Linked DNA regions of Homo sapiens. The protein of the gene in region 2 interacts with the protein of the main gene of each other region in a biochemical or structural test. Each region holds a gene or a part of one and is shown on either strand. Other genes may lie near its edges.

The links. The genes of interacting proteins can lie anywhere in the genome.
Region 1: the proteins of PLA2G4A (region 2) and ITGB3 form a complex in vitro, tested with the Homo sapiens proteins (one study listed by BioGRID).

The regions. Positions count from the first base shown.
Region 1 is NC_000017.11:47,288,327-47,292,017, reverse strand, and holds part of ITGB3 (integrin beta-3 precursor), read right to left. Parts: intron 2,338-3,691; coding exon 2,242-2,337; intron 1,834-2,241; coding exon 1,744-1,833; intron 1,065-1,743; coding exon 930-1,064; intron 1-929. UniProt on the Homo sapiens protein: Integrin alpha-V/beta-3 (ITGAV:ITGB3) is a receptor for cytotactin, fibronectin, laminin, matrix metalloproteinase-2, osteopontin, osteomodulin, prothrombin, thrombospondin, vitronectin and von Willebrand factor.
Region 2 is NC_000001.11:186,830,938-186,836,578, reverse strand, and holds part of PLA2G4A (cytosolic phospholipase A2), read right to left. Parts: intron 1-5,641. UniProt on the Homo sapiens protein: Has primarily calcium-dependent phospholipase and lysophospholipase activities, with a major role in membrane lipid remodeling and biosynthesis of lipid mediators of the inflammatory response.

The sequences.
Region 1 (3,691 bases), on a different chromosome or scaffold from region 2:
TTTGCAATCTGGAGTTCCTCAGCCTTCCCTATATGAAGGTCTGCAAAGCAAAAACACAAGCACGGGAATAGTATCGTTGTGACATATCTAGCTGGATGCAGAGACATGGTTTACAGTCAATAAATAATAAAAGGCTGTTTTTTCACTCCACATATGAAATAGACCAGCTCAAACTGAACAGAACCTGTGATCATATAAACACCCTGCTTTGGCCTGATTATAATTATCAGCAAGATGCACAAAGCACTATTTTGCACCACACAATCCCACATGGTGGTCAATCATAAGCTCAGGATCTACTTCAGTTCCCACACATTTCATAGCTTATGCAATAAAGCATGTTTCAGGACAATATTTCTAACATGGGATGTTTGCACAAGTGCCTGAGAGACAGATAGGTCAATAGAAAGGATCAGCGTATCCAAAGATCTATTTTCTTCCCCTCCTTCCTCCCCTCCCACCAACCCCTCTCCCCTTAGGCAGAAGCGGAGGAGAAACGACCAATAAGGAAAGTCGTGGAGAGACTGGAGTGTTTTACATTTTAGATTTTACTTTCTTGTGTCGTTTTACAAAAGAAAGGTATTAATTACCTTGGAAAGGCTGGCGACTGGTGAGGGACTGAAGGTAAAGAAATATTTTCCTTTGCAATCAACTGTGCATACACAAACAAAGGTAACCAAATTGTAAGTTTTTCAAATTCCTGAGAGTGAAGTTCACGTAACAGAAATGGCTTACGCAACAGAAGCCTCAGAGGAAAAGATTGGTGGATCCATTACATCTAACTTAGAATGACTTTCAGGAAACGTATTTTTCTTGCCCATATTTTTTTTCTGGTGGAAGGGGGCCATTTTTAGTCACTACAAAAGGAAGAAAGGGGGTTGGGTGCCCACAGATGCTCCAGGACAAAGGCCCTGCCCAGCCCACCTCACCGTGTCTCCAATCTTGAGTCCCATACAAGACTTGAGGCCAGGGATGACCTCATTGTTGAGGCAGGTGGCATTGAAGGATAGAGACAACTCTTCAGGGAGGTCACGCACTTCCAGCTCTACTTTAGAACGGATTTTCTGAGCAGAAAGGGGCACAAGAAGACAAGAAATTGAACTGAAAGGAAACGGGAAATGGCAAGAGCCAGTTCCATCCCAAGCCAAATCTGGCAAGTAGCTCTGGACTCACCCCAGCAGTGCCAGAGGCCAAGGTTTGACCTGGAAGCTGCCGGAGCACCCCTAGGACTCTGTTTCCTGCGCAGGAACCTGCTCCCTCTTTCCATCTCCACTTGCGTCTAGGTGAGTCTGGGTAAAATGTACCAGCTACACCCTCCTGCAGGCCTCACAGATGTTGCAAAAGGGGAGTGCCAATACTGGTCACCTTGGAAAGTGGCATTTTCTACCTAATGTTTCATCAACCTCACCTTCCCCATGTCTCAGCTCTCTCTTTTCCCTGTTATTGGAGCCCAGTTTTCCCTCACTCTGCCCCCACAATTCCAGGGCTCTGCTCCTTCTCCATCTAATCACCATCCCCATCCCCATCTTCTTTCCTTCTTTCTCTCTTCCTTCCTTCCTTCCTTCCTTCTCAGAAGGCTGCATCCCTTCTAGAGCGGGCCATTGCCTGGGCTCTGGGAGCACACGGAGAAGGCAGTAAGACCGTGTGGTAGACTGGCAACTGGGACTCACAAATCTGAGCCCTGCTGTGTAAGCCAAATGAGGTGGACTCTCCGCGGGACTATTCCCAGCACAAGACACTTACCCCATAAGCATCAACAATGAGCTGGAGGACATTGCTGGAATCCATGGACAGAACCCCAACTGTGGTCCCTGGGATGAGCTCACTATAGTTCTAGAAAGGAAAACAAAGATGTCCAGAGCTTACCAAAGGAAGCTGGTGGTCTCCAAAAGCCCTCCCCAAATCCCACTGAGAGTCCTGAGATGAAGATTGGAGGAAGGTACGGGATATTTCAATTGTCACTGCCAGGAATATATCTAGCAGTTTTTCAGCCCTGAGCAAAAGTAGAGGAAACCTCTCACACCCCTCACCACCTCCCCTCCACCACCACAAACACCAACACATACCTAGTAAGTTCAAGATTGCAGGAAAAAGGCCCAGAGTGCAATCTTTAGCTCCTGGGGAGTGGATTAGGGGAGACTCTTTCCTGATTGGGGACTGTATCCAATGCTAGCACAGGCTGGCTACCTGGGGCACCCACCATCACAGGGCCCACTCCAGGAAGCCCGAAGGCACAGTCACCTGATAGAGATTGACTACATTTTCAGTCACTGCAAAGATCAAATTGATGTTTTTCTGGGATAGCTTCTCAGTCATCAGCCCCAAAGAGGGATAATCCTAGGAAAATGAAGGATGTAGAGGTTAATGACGTCTCATGTACATCTCTAGGGTCTAAAGCTTAGAACTTATCTTGCTTGGGCTGTGGCTCAGAGTGTGGTGGTGCTTAAACCATTTCACTTCATGCTGAAAGTGAGACAAGAGCCTGGGCAACATAGCAAGACCCCATCTCTACAAAAAAATTTTTTTTATTTGCCAGATGTGGTGGTAAGTGCCTATAGTCCTAGCTACTGGGGAGGCTGAGGCAGGATCACTTCAGCCCAGGAGTTGGAGGTTACAGTGAGCTATGATTGCACCACTGCACTCCAGCCTGGGCAGCAGAGCAAGACTCTGTCTCTAAAAAAAAAAGGGGGGTGACAGTGAGATAAGAAGGGTAAGTAGCACAGAAGTCTACTTGTGAACTCCAGGGATAGACGAAGAGGTACAGGCCAGTGGTGTCAAAACTAAGCACCTCTTTCTTCCTGCTTGAATTTAATGCACTAATACTATGGAGCTGCTTCCGTGCACAAGGGACTGGGTTAGGCCTCTGTTTTGGAACTACTGACAAATGCCTTGGCCTGGCCCTCGTGATCCTCCACCGTGTGGTCTCAGTCTTTCTTTCCAAATATTGCTCACCTCTCTCCCTCTTCCACTCAGCAGTGATCTGGCCCACTGTCTCCCACCTGGAGTGGCCTTCTTGTTGGTAATCCTCCTCCTTTCTTAGGGCCTAGCTTAGCCCCCACCTTCTTCAGGAGACTTCCTTGGCCATCCCAGCTCATGATGACCTTTCCTCCCTTGGATACGTATAGCCACATTGGCTGTGCCACACCCATTTGGCACTAATCATGCATCTTGTGTTATTGTAAATATATATATCCTTTCTCCTCAAGTAGACCAAAAACTCCCCAAGGATAGAACCATACATAGTCTTGTTACCTCCCTCAGCCCCTGGCCCAGTGCCTTGCATAGATTAGGGGTCAAATGTTGCTGACTCATTGTCTGGTAGTGCTTGACTTGGATATGGCTGACACCAAGGAACTCAAGGACACTGTGCGGGGGCGGTGGTGAATCGTGAACATGTCCATGGGATCCTAGACCTTGCAGGGAGCTCATTAGATCCTCAGCTCAGTCTCCTGCCTTTACACAGGTACACCTTTAAGTCACCTAGATGAGGAAGTTGCTATATTGTCCTTAGGAGACGAAGAGTTCACACCTGCCCCAGATACCTAGAGCATTACAGCACATTTCTCTTATGGCTTATAGTAATTTCTCCTGATTCAATTTAAATATTTTCCTCTTGTTTAACCTTCTATGGCCATATAAAACAACTTATAAGAAGTTTTCTCATGTATAAGCTAAATCATCCTTTAGCCTT
Region 2 (5,641 bases):
GCTTCATACAATACCTGTTCTTTTTCTAAGTATTAAAAAATTGCATTTTCCTACTCCTACTACTTTTCTAAGTATACTATATGTATTAATAAAATGGTATATAGAAATTATTTTTTCACAGAAACTTAAAATTTATATGAGAGCATCCTTTTCATTGTGATGATAAAAAGTGCTTGAAGATTCTTGTTATCTGTTTAAATTACATCTTAGATTGACAATTGGCTTGGTTGATTAATATCTTATGTACATATTAATATATAATAACAATCAATATTATTATTAAGGTATATTATATGTAATATATGGTGTATTGAATAACTAATGATTTACCTGAATTAATTCATATTGATTATTAATTATATTAATGCATAGGCTATATATTAATACTGGGGTATTAATTCATATAAATAGCTTATTAATACTTATTAATACATAATATATTGATCAACCAAATCAAATTTGTCAACCTAAAACATATTTTAAACAGATTGTAACAATTTCTGCAAACAGTGAATGAGTGTCACAAATTTGATTCTTTCTTTTATTGCTTTTCATTGACAACAAAGGCATCATTACAGAAAGTAATAAAGGTGAGAGGGAAAAAATGCATGTAAATATTGTGAAGCTTTATATATATAAAATGTAAATCTCTGGTTGTCACCAGCTCAAAAATTAAGTACCAAGTAATAGATTATAAGTAAGCATCCAACAGATTTGCAATTAAATCTTTAATTTACCAAGAAGCCTCTTTTAAATTAGAATCGCTGCTGTGACAAATCTTTCTAAAATGGGTTAGTGGCATTGTCTTCTAAGAACCAGGGATATAACAGTATTTTAAAGTTATTATCTGAACATGTATTACCATTGATCATTGAAAGTGAACTACAGAAATTTCCTAGTGTTCTCTCTTTGAGATCTAAGTTCATGACGTCAGCAAATTTAAAATTCATCCACCTCTTCTTCATGGCAGTTGAATGAAAAGAAAGTTGATAACCTGTTTGAGGTTTGTGGTAGACACAACAGTGGCTAATGGATATTAAGAAATCATAATGATAGACGCAGCAGTCTATACAGAATGATCCCATAACTGTGTGCATCTTTAGACACTTTTCCCTGATTGCTTTTCAATAAATTCTTACATAATTGCTCCAAATTACTTTTTTCAATACTTTCATAATATTGCATCAAATATATGTTTTAAAAAGTCCACAAAATGAATTGCCTTTTTGTTTCAAAACTTAAAACACCATTTATCTGCCTCGAGACTATCCTAGGCAGACACTGTCTCTTCTTATAGATCCAAGAATTCTGCAAAAATACTTTTTTCCATAAGGGGTGAACATCCCAGTTTACTGCCTGTGTACTGCATTTAACTTGCTTATCCTGTCAAAACTGTGGGCATAAAAGTATGGGGCAAATAAGAAGTGTGTCAATTTACTGACTGAAATTCAGAAGCCATGTGCTGACCTAATGTTTCTAGTGGCACAGTTGTATCCAGCAGTAAAACCTGACCTAGTATGCATTATTTATTACCACATCATAGTATGTATACTAAGTCAAGCGTATAACTAATGTTGGGTTTTACCCCTGAGAAGGAGTATCTGCTTTATCATAAGCTACTGAATTATTTGGAAAGGTAAAATAATAATTATTTTGTCCAAATGATAAATCCAAGGTCAGAGTAACCATTTTGATACAAATGCTTTATGCCAACTGCCAGGTTTAATAAGAGCCAGAAAGAGCCATAGGTTCTGTAGGTTATACTTAGAAAATTCTAAGAAAATTCTCTACGACCAACCTGAAAGCAAAACATTTGGCAAAATCAGCACTTTTTACATAACTCATGAAATGTGTTTATTTTGTATTTTTAGATAAAATGTAATATATTTTATTTTCTTAAAGTAGTATACATACTACTGTACAAAGTACTATGTAGTTCCAAAATTGCACAACCTCCCCTATTACGTCAATCAGTAATCAAGTTATAAGGGCAGAACGATTGAGTTATTATGGAAACACGCACCAGGAGAGTGGACTTCCTGGGCCTTCTCCAGTAATTTTTCTGATGTTAACTCCAATAGAAAGAGTGTGACAACCTCAAAGAATACACATTAAAACTAAAAATATAAACCAATATATTTAAACATTTAAATACATCAAAATGGAATCATAAGGCAGACATTAAAAAAAAGAAAAAAACGTTTGACTTTTCAATAGCTCTTTTTCACATCTGTAAAATGTGGATAGTCATACCTGTACTGCTAACTTACACAGTTTTGTGGAAATAAACAAAGTTCATAACCAATCCCTTTATCAACCACAAAGCCTGTGAAAATAAAAAAATACTGGGCCTCTGATTTTTTTTTCAAACTAGATAGTGAGAAAACAGCTTGTAAATTAAATAACAAAACAAAAACCTAAGCAAGTATAAGCTGAGTATCATAAATACATGAGTTTTCTGTACTGTAGAAGAATACATATTAATGACATTTGTTTACTAATTCAAAGCACACTGTTACCTAAAATACCGATTTTTTTCCTGAAGACTCCAGAAGTCAAGCAAATGAAGAGGAAGATTGGGGAAAAGGAAGCAGTTGATTCACAACTGCATGTGCCAAAAAAGGAGTGGGAAGAAAAATGAGAGCCAATTTGGTCTATTATCTTTAATGGAGAGTGATGGCTAAACTCTGACACTGATAACTTTCAGCGTCAGGTGTCTGCTGAGTTTCTCTAAGCTCATTTGAATTCATTTAATAAGTGATTAGACTGGTAGGGTAGCTTTACAAATCTGCTTATGGTGAGCATTGAGTTGTTTATGCTTATTTCATTTTTTGTATAAGGAAAGGTAAACTGTATTTTCAAGGTGTGTTGTAAGATTTGCACTAAGAATCACAAAAAGAATCAAAAAACTTAGAATCACATAGCAAAAGTAGCAAATACATGTAATGCATCCTTTATTAACAGGCAGGTAATGGTATCAGAGGACCAGAATAACCTCTGCTCTATTTACTGTCTTCTTTGGAAAGAACTCCAGAACCAACCTTTTGGTTCCCCCAACTATTTATTGCCCTAATAGTCAAGGGGTAGAAGACAAAGAGTTGGCCAGAACTGAAATTCATTTTCTCTAAATTGGTTGTTCACAACCAATAATATTATTTTCCTCACAAAACTTTTCTTTTTAATAAGAAACAAAATCTTGCTCTATCACCCAGGCATGAGTGCGGTGTGTGGTCAAAGCTCACTGCAGCCTCAAACTCCTGTGTTCAAATGATCCCCCTGCCTCAGCCTCCCAAATTGCTGGATTACAGGTGCATGCCACCATATCCAGCTGATTTTTTCAAAATTTTTAATAAGATTTTAATTAATCTCACTATGTTGACCAGGCTGGTCTCAAACTCTTGGGCTCAAGCCTGCCAAAGTGTTGGGATTACAGGTGTAAGCCACTGCACCCAGCCTTACAAAACTTGAACAGTCATCACGCCACCCTTAGTCCTAACAATATCTTCTTTACATGATTCAGGCCAGGATGTCTCTGGTGCTGGGTTTTGGCCATCATCTCTGAACCCTCCAGGTTTCCCATCATTTGTAAACTATTAGTCTATGAGAATAAAAAATAATTTGCTCTCATTTTTCTATGTATTCTCACCCATTTTTAAGGGAAAGGTTTCAGGAAACACTAAAAATAACCCTCCAAAAATGAGAAAAACATTGTTTATAGAATTTCTACTTCCAGTTCAAAATTTCATCTATATTGTTAAGACTCTTAATATTCTTCAAAATTACTGAGGACCCCAAAAGTGCTATGATTATGTAAGTTATATCCGTTAATATCTATCATATTTGAAATTGAAAGAGAAAAATTTTTTAAATCACATTGAAAGAGACAATTCACAAACATAGACATATAAGTGGCCACTATGAAAATTGCTCAACTTTGTTCAACAAAGAAATGTAAATTTAAACAAGATACTATTTTCGTATATCAATTATCCAAGTTGTTGGATTTGTTGTCATTTGCTCTGTTTGATGATGGCACCCAGTATTGACATAGAAAACTCTACTCTTTTATATTGCTCATAAATGAATACCATATTCCTCAAGAGCAAAATGTCAAAAATAATCACTAGCATTCCATGAGATTTCGCTAAATATTTTAAAGAATCCTCAAAATACCCAACTATTATTATTTCTATTTTACAATTGAGAAGACAACATTTTAAGGAGATAAAGTAATTGGATTATCATCTCACAACTTGTAAGTAATAAAATTTTTTTTAGAACCTAGAAAATAAACTTTAAGAATCTACCATAAGGAAATAAACAAAAATGTATACTAACATATATAAAAAAGGTCCTAGATGAAATATTATTTATAATAGTGGAAAACTATTATAAATCTAAATATCCAACAATTATTTATAATAGTGGAAAACTAATCTATCTAAATATCCAACAAGATATAATTGGCCAGTACAGCCTATATACAGATGAAAAATTTCATATAGTAAGAACCATACTCTTTTGCTCATGGATAGATTGCCATTACTTGCATTACACACAGTAGGGACTTAATAATATTTGTTAAATATGTGAATACAAAGTAATGCATGATTATTAAAAAAAACATGTTTTAACAATGCATCTCATGAATGAGGGAGAAGCATGTTACAAAACAGCATGAACAGTGTGATCACAATTTTGTAAAACTACATGTATGTATAGAAACATATCTAGACATATAAACATGTATATACATGAACTTCTTGTCTGTCTCTTTGCTGATGCATACTGGGTACTCAATAGATATTTGTTGATTGAATTAATGATTGAATTACATTTTAAAAGTACCTTGGGGGAAATAATAGGTAATATTTTCTTTTTCTTCCTTGCAATTTTCTATATTTAATGAAATTTTAAGCAGTGAGTGTGATTTATCTTTATAATAAACAATAGTGTTATAAAAACTAATCATTCTGGGAAATGTCATTAGGAATTTTGGAATAAAAGTAGTAAATATAGACACCCCACAATCCAATAAAAAATAACTTGCATCTGATTTTCTTATTATGTTTCACTTACTGCATTCGGCAATAAAAGCAACAGATGTTACAGAAAAATGTCAAGCGTAATATTGTACAGTTAATTATTATTGGGGTTGAGTCTAGAACCTAGGTCACCTGGTTTCAGGCAAGCAGTTTTTTCCATTATACCAAGTTGCTTGGAGTTCTAGAATACCAATGAATAAATGACTATGTGGGTGCTACAATATCCACTGTTAGTTCCTTACTTATAAGTAAAATGATTTTATAATTAATCATTTTATATTATCAGAAAACTCCAAAGTTTTAAGAAATACTGCATTTTCATGTAATATGAATTGTCTTTGGGGATTTGTGAACTTCTTAAAGGTGTTTTTAAATTTGTGTGTGTTGGAATGGCATAATGTGCATTATTCTAGGGAGGGGTCCATACCTGTCACAAGATTATAAAAGTGTCTTTGATGGAACAAAAACAAAAGAAAGAAAAAGAAAAGAAAGAAAAAGTAAGAAAGAAAGAAAAAGAAAGAAAGAAAGAAAGAAAGAAAGAAAGAAAGAAAGAAAGAAAGAAAGAAAGAAAGAAAGCAAGCAAGCAAGCAAGCAAG